Linked DNA regions of Homo sapiens. The protein of the gene in region 1 purifies or fractionates together with the protein of each later gene. This does not show direct contact. Each region holds a gene or a part of one and is shown on either strand. Other genes may lie near its edges.

The links.
Region 2: the proteins of RGMB (region 1) and BMPR1B purify together in Homo sapiens (affinity purification with western blotting, with the first as the bait; one study listed by BioGRID). This does not show direct contact.

What each region holds. Positions count from the first base shown.
Region 1 is NC_000005.10:98,779,860-98,783,684, reverse strand, and holds part of RGMB (repulsive guidance molecule B isoform 1 precursor), read right to left. Parts: coding exon 3,597-3,825; intron 1-3,596. UniProt on the Homo sapiens protein: Member of the repulsive guidance molecule (RGM) family that contributes to the patterning of the developing nervous system. Acts as a bone morphogenetic protein (BMP) coreceptor that potentiates BMP signaling. Promotes neuronal adhesion.
Region 2 is NC_000004.12:95,149,277-95,153,101, reverse strand, and holds part of BMPR1B (bone morphogenetic protein receptor type-1B isoform b precursor), read right to left. Parts: intron 460-3,825; coding exon 329-459; intron 1-328. UniProt on the Homo sapiens protein: On ligand binding, forms a receptor complex consisting of two type II and two type I transmembrane serine/threonine kinases.

The DNA.
Region 1 (3,825 bases):
TCACCTTCTGTGATCATGGCATATACAGATTCTTATTGAACCCACTTAAACAGAGATATAAAGATCCACAGAATGAATGAACAAGAGTTGAGACTGAGAGGTTGGCAAAAATAACATGGAAGAAGTCAAGCATCCTCAAAACAGATCATCTGGTTTATCTTGAGTGTGTGAGGCACAGGACAACTACTGACATGTGCCCTCTCTGGAGCCTGTGAAGGGTGGGCTACTTCCTCCTGCAAAACAAAACCTGCCTTTCTTCTCAGTGTAGCTAACTCTGCCAGTTCAGAGCCTGTCCCTCTCATCTCATTCTGAGTGCCTACATGCCTGTAGCCGCCTCTCACAGCCAAAGGTGGGGAAGATGGCCCAGAGCTGATGTGGATGTCAGCCGAGGTATGTGTGTGTGCCAGACACCCCTGCAGCCCCCGGGGTGGAGAGATGAAAAACCAGCCCTGGCTTCCCCTTCAGAAACACATCTACCTGGCAAGGTAGCCAACTGGCACAGGTTCCTCCAAAGAGAGGGAGGCAGGCACAGGGCAAAACTAAAAACACAGAGGCCTTGAGAAAGCATACCTGTGCACACCATGACCAACAGGAAAACAAACCCTACCTTTCCCAAGGAAGGGGAGGAGAGGGCCATGGTGGGGAAGAAAACAGTAGACCAGGGGAGATGAGGCAACATCATTAAGCACCGCAGGCATGTCTGCCTTGAACTCACTGCTTGCCATGTAGAGAAAAAGAAAAGGCTTAGCTAATATATGGCCCCGGGTGACTTCATTTCATTCTATGGTGTTTAGATTTTTCCCCCACTTTGTCTTTTTGTGATAAGGAAAAGGGGGGTACCTAGGAACAGGCAGAGCTCACAAAGTTGGGCTTGAAGACGGCTTGCTCAAGAGGCCAGGTTCCCAGGACTGAGAAGCTGTCTTAGTAGCCTCATTGAGCAAAATACCCTGGGGTCTAGTGCTTCAGTGCAGTGTTAAAGGGAGCGAAATGAATGGATGTTTCCGAAAATTTCAGTATCACAGCTGGCCAGCTAGCCAATGACATCAGTCTTTCAATCTAGTGGCACTGAGCACGTGGGTTATTAAAAACACTTGACCACACAAGGATGATCTGGTATCTACAAGGCACAGTACTAGGTTACCCAACAACTGGTCTATGCACTTGCTTAAATTCTCAGTAAAGCTGGGATTTCCATGAAAAAATTTTTCAAAAGATTTTTTAAAGAAAGTATGGTGGTAGACATTAAGGGAAAATTTCAGATCTTGTTTAGAACTTATTTTATAAGCACTTTTATGCCTCTTATTGTTTTTATTTTTATCACCACCACTTTTTTGTGCTGAAGGTTTTTAAAGGTTTTATTTTGGTCCTGGCTGGGTAAAAGGAACGTATTGTAAGATTTAGGCCTTTCTTTGGTTTCACCAGCACACGTCATACTAGTATTGAGACAGGTCTTCAAGAGCAACCTTCCAGATGCTTATGGGGCTTTGGAGAGAGTTACAAAGAGAAGGGGGATGGGGAACCAAACCCAACAACTCCTAGAGGTTGTGAAGTGAGGCTACAGAATAGTTTGCTGCTGAACAGCATGGTCACCAGATGTGGGAAAATACCTTCCAATAGTGCAATTAAAGACCAAGCATTCTCATCATCTACTTGAATTTATGTCAGAGGACCACTTTCTCCAACTTTTTTTGAATGGGTAAAACCTTTGATCCTTATTCCAAACTGAGGGAGAAAACAAGATTGTCCTTTTTATTTATTTGCTAAAAATTACAACAGAATTCAACTGAAATAAAATGATCTTAAATACTTCAGTGTAAACTGTTCCATATATATAGCAATATTCATAAGGTTATCCCCCACATATTTTCACCATAATCAGTAACAATAGAATTCTGAAAGACTGAATAACAGAAGTGACATGACCGGATGGAAGGCATGAAGAATAAAATTTGAATACTGCTTCTTGTGAAGAGAATGAGTATTTCCCCATTTACAAGCTCTGATTAATCTCTATAGTTTTGTTCGAAGGTCACTCTGCCAAGTCCTCAATTATTTGCACAATTGATGACTTTTTCCATTCTCAATGGACTGCCTTCTTTCAGTTACCCAAAGACTATTCCCAGCTTTCATGTGCCATATGACTCTGCAGTAATGATGGATTTGGGGCCATCGTTTCTCTTATAACTTCATAATTCTATAACTTTATATATAATTTATAGCAAATACATATTCTGAGATATTTATAAAAAAATGATTTGAGTACATACAAAAACCAGAGGGAGAAAAGTTTATTTTGAGATATGGAATTTGGTAAGGCAAAAGACAAGCTTGAGCTTTTACTGAGAGTTGAAGTATAAACATTTTGGAGTTCCCCTAAGATGTCTAGACCAGTGTAACAGTCGTCTTTGATTAGGGCAATGACTTCTAGTCTTAAATTTGTGACACCCCAGGGTGTCTGCAGATATCTCCCGAGGTGTTGTAAAATTCCCTCCACAAAATGCCAAGTAAAATAAGCTTTAATTTATTTAAAAAGTATACCACACATGTTTAGACACAGGGGAGGGTGTCCTGGAATCAAGAGAACAGTCGTAAGTATTTCAAAAGCTTGAGTCTTGTCAATTACATTAAAAAACTAAACCAATTTTTTTGGATACAATAAATGCAAGAAATAAAGTAAGATGAGATGGTCTATGTGTGTGGTTTTGTGGTTGGAAAAGACACGGAAGGAGGTGGTTAGTCGGGACACTATTTTAGTGGAAAAGTGACTTTACTTACTAATGGCTGAATTAGCACTGACTGCCAATTAGAAACCTAGTTCATAGGTCCTCTCTACCTGCTTGCACTAAACACTGGTGCCTTGAAGTTGGTGTCAAAGATCTCTGTACAGTATTAGTTTCTTTAAAACAAACGAACACAGACCACATAAACTGGCAGCTAGTCATGGTAAGCTAAATTTTGTCAGTGTTTCTCTTAGCTTCTGACTGAAACTGTTAACCTGAGGCCCTGAGATTACACACAGGTTACATATTGCTGCTCTGCAATATCCAATTATTAACCTCCTCGGTCATCAAGAGGTTAGTAACTAAACCACCACTGTGGGTTTACCACTGGGAAGTTGGCTTATTGCCATTATGTTTTACTATAGCTTCCAAATCTCCAATAAAATATGTTTCCTGATACGTCACTGCCTCAGGCCTCACAGCTTTCTTTATTCAGAACACCCACTTCAATCATCTGATAAATCTGAACATGGATTTCTTCAAGAGTCACACACATATGCACTCAAAAAAAGACATCACTGAAAAAAGCATCCTTTTTTTACTAAACAGGTCTGCCTTTTCCCTGGAGAACTCAATTTCACTGTTTACTTTTTATTCTTTATATCACTGTCTATTTAAAATTAGAACCACGTTTACATTCCAATAAGAAATTCCTTACTAGATAATTTTTATTTAACCCTTTATCAACTGTTAATTGCTTTTCAAAAGAAGTTCCTTTTAAACTAGGCCCTTTATAGCACATTTCAAAAGTTATCTGAAGAATCAAACATCTTTTGAAAGTTGAGTAGGGAGAGGGAAAAAAGAAGGTATACTTGCCTTATTTGTAGCAGTAGCACTGGATCCAGGGACCACAGGTACGTTTGTCACTTGAACTGAAAGATAATTATTATCTATGAGTGGCCAGGCCCCTTCTACTTTGCATGTTTGGAAGTTATCCTTGAAAGTTCTGAGGTGAGGATCTCCAAACAAGCCACAAAAAAGGTAACTGGGAGGGTTCTGGTCCCCTCTCCTGTGTTCCCTGGCTCCAGCGTGGCTGTGATAGTTG
Region 2 (3,825 bases), on another chromosome or scaffold:
TGATGCTTTAAAAACACACACAGAGAAATAATAGGTTTTATGCAAATGTCAAGACATTATAAATAAAGAAAATAATGTTATTTGTTATGCAGGCTAAACACTGACCAACTCACTCAATATATTCTGGAAGTGGCAAAATAAAATTGGAAAAGTAGAACAAGTAATTTAACATACTACACTTATCTTCATATAAATTACTGCAATGAGGCGCCATCACCATCACCATCAAAAAAAGAAGAATTCCTACAATCAATATGTGGAATTTTAGCTAAAAAAGAAAAGTCTATTTAGAAGTCTGTCACAGCCACATGGTTACCTCAAGCCTTACCTCATCACTGCTCCACCGGTTTGGGAATGAGGGGCGTAACTTCTTGATGCACACAATCTCCCTCATGTCCTCATAAGAGGGGTCACTGGGCACTAGGTCATGATAAGGAAGCTGGTATTCTTCCACTATACCTAAAAATATGTTGTTACTATTATTATTATTATTATTATTTTCTGTGAAGTAGAAATAAAAGTCTAACACAGTTCTCAAAGGAAAAGTGCTATCAGTATTACAGACAAGTTCAGGCAGAAAAATAGCAAAATAAATCTTGAAAAATATTTACCCAAATGGTACTTAATCTAATTTAGAAAAAATGAATACAAAGCCCAATGAAAAATATTGTCATAGGTCTTCAAGCCTTTCTTTCCTAATTTCCAAAAGCTAAGTAAAACAAGCATCTTAAATTTATTTCCATTTTTATGAAGAACAAATTAAAAGACAAATCTATATTAAATCTCAATGCAAATCTGCAAGACATATCCTGAACTCATACTACATGTGACTGTTTCTATTACTATAGTATGAAACTATGAATATCATAATAAATTCAGAAGTGTATCCTACTTGAACAAAATGTCAGATTTACATTTTTTCTGCTTAATTGTAGGAATGTGGTTTTGCACATTAAAAATTTAGAAAATTACAGACACCCAAAAATATTAACCATGAATTTTTTAGGTTCAAGGATTATCTGATTTTTTTCCTATATTTATCCAAATTTTCAGTAAGGAATACATTACTATTAGAAAAAATATGTATTGTTAAAAGAAAAGAAATATAAATCTATAGCATCTTCATAAAAATGCACACTAAACTTTCATTTTATTGTTCCTAGTATTTAATTTCTACCTTCTTCCTCTTCTCCTTTAAAAATGCAGGCTTCTAGTATCTTCTTTTTCACCTTCTTAAGATTAACTCCTTATAATAATTACATTAGAGGCTGCTGCTCTGAACAATCTTTTGGGAGCACCCCTCCTCCCTATCCTAAATCATCTTTTATAGAAATATCATTGCTTTTCATCTGAAAAAGATGATGCCGTCAAGTTGGCAGATTATATATCACATCGTTAAATTCACTGGGGGCTTACTCTGCCAAAATCTGGGGTCTGTGTTATGTTCTTTCTTGTAAACTCAAATCTGTTATAAAATCATCAAGGACCAGAAGGTTCAGAAGTTTTTTCAGACCATTCCAACTCACCATTTGTCCTGTGCCCTGCTGTGACCACAGAGCTAATTATATGTATTATCTATGTTAATATTTCCTTTCACTGTGTTTTACCTCCATATGAGATAAGAAAAGCACAGGGCCTAACACGCAGGATGTGCTCTGCTTCATTTCAGTTCTTTCTCCCTTTCTCATTCTCAGGACCATGGCCCTGGAAACAGCCTGAAGGCAAAGCCCACATCTCTTTAACCCATCTCCTATTTTCCGCTGGTGGATGGACTGATGGATGGGGTGGGGTAGGTGTATCTACTACAACAGACGAAGGCAGAGCTCACCACTTAAAATTATGAATTACTCAAATCTAACTGTTGAATAATAGGCCTTATTCTTTTCTCCATGTCATGTAATCAAGTTTTCAAAATTTCCTGTTAGCTGCCATTTAACTCTGTTTGAAACCTCAAACCTTTCTGTCTTTCTTCTCCTTTAAAAGATGGAAAGGCCTACATCTGGATGTGTCTCTTTCACCCAGAAGGGCCTGGACTAGAAAGATAAGCCCAAAAAACTTCTAATATCTTCATAAAGTGTTAGAAAATAGAATTTTGTGTGCTTTGCCTCTCTGGAAAAATAAAATCGCTTATTGAGAGCTTCCTCTATCCCAGTTGTGGAAACAGGTATGCTATATAAATTATCTTATTAAATTCTCACAAATGCGTTTCTGAGATGACATTATTCTCCACACTACTCAGATGAGGAAACTTGGCTCTCAGGGGTTAAGTAACTTGCCCAAGTCCATTCAGTTGGTATGGGACAGAGCAGGGACTCCAACACCTCTAACAATAAGGCAACATTATAGCAAATCTCCACATCCAAAGACAGCCCTAGCAAAGCAAATTAATACCCTAGCACAGCAATTAATACCCTGCTGTTTATATAAAGCTACTTTGTTTTTAAGCTGAGAATAATTTCTCCTGTATTTGGCCCACAGGCTTTCAAATATAGGCTTCCTGTAGCCCTGTTTGTTTTAGATGTTCAAGAAAACATAATTAGAAAAATAACCTTGTTCTCTACACCTTCAACTTCCATAAAGCTATCTTAATTAAGTATAAGCATATTATTTTTTAAAAGGCTCGTCTACTTGTTTTTTTTTTTTTTTTCTTTTTAAATACAGACTGGGTCCCAATCTATTGCCCAGACTAGTCCTCAACTCCTGGCTTCAACTGATCCTCCCCGCTTGGACTCCCAAAATGCTGGGAATGCAAACGTGAGGCTTATCTACTCTTTATAATGCGTGAAATCAAGGCATAGACAATTTGTTAAATTTTTTGGTTACTTCTTCTTTACACTTAGAATGAGAAATTTATTCAATATCTGGTTAGAGAAAATTTCCTGCATTAACTTTCCTTTTGCACAAAATAGTTCCCTCACTTCAGAGAGTATGTGTTCTATTTCAAATTTCTTAAAACAGGTTCAGAATTCCCAAAGTGATTATTAGAAGGCACTGTGCCACTGATAATGATCTTTCTATTGAAGTGTGAATGCAGGTTGATTAACTGTTTCTTCTTTGTATTTAAATATGAACCTAAAGATGTTATGGCTCTACCAACCAAAATGAAAAGTATTAATAGTAATAATAGCTAACATGTATTGAGTGCTATTTATGTGCCAGGCAGTTCTCATTATCTTTACATTGAAACCATACAACCACAGAAGCAGATACAATAATTCAATTCATCTTTAAGAGGACTCTGAAACAAAGAAAAGTTTATAACCTGTCCAAGGCATCACAGATAAATAGCAGGAACAAGAACACATCTCAGTACTAGTTAAGTGCATGCTGCACTTTCAGAATCTTCAGCAAGCTCATGTTTTCATGAAGATAGACTTAAATTGGCCATTATGAGGAACAGCAGCAGCATCAAGGTTTTTTAATGAGCACAACCATGGAATAACATACAGAAGAGTTGATACAGAAAAGCCAAAGATTCAGCTCCTTGCCTAAAAGGTGTCAGAATTTACTCGAAGACAGACTGTAGAGCAATCAAAATAGTACAAGTAATAATACTTCTGAATATTTAAATATGTCTTCTTGTTCATTATAATTGTTTTTACTAGGGAATCCTCATATGTGTAGAAAAAACAATATAAAAAAATAATACTCTGATACTTTAATTTCCTTTTGATAAAAAACTGATGTTTTCAAATTGCTTTATGGGGAAGTTTTATAAAAAATACAGCAGGTAAGAAATGGGTGTCCGACCCCACATTTATGGCCTACTGTCATCTCTGCAGAGGAAATCCCAGGGAATGGAGTTGGGGATGGGGCCCAGCAGCT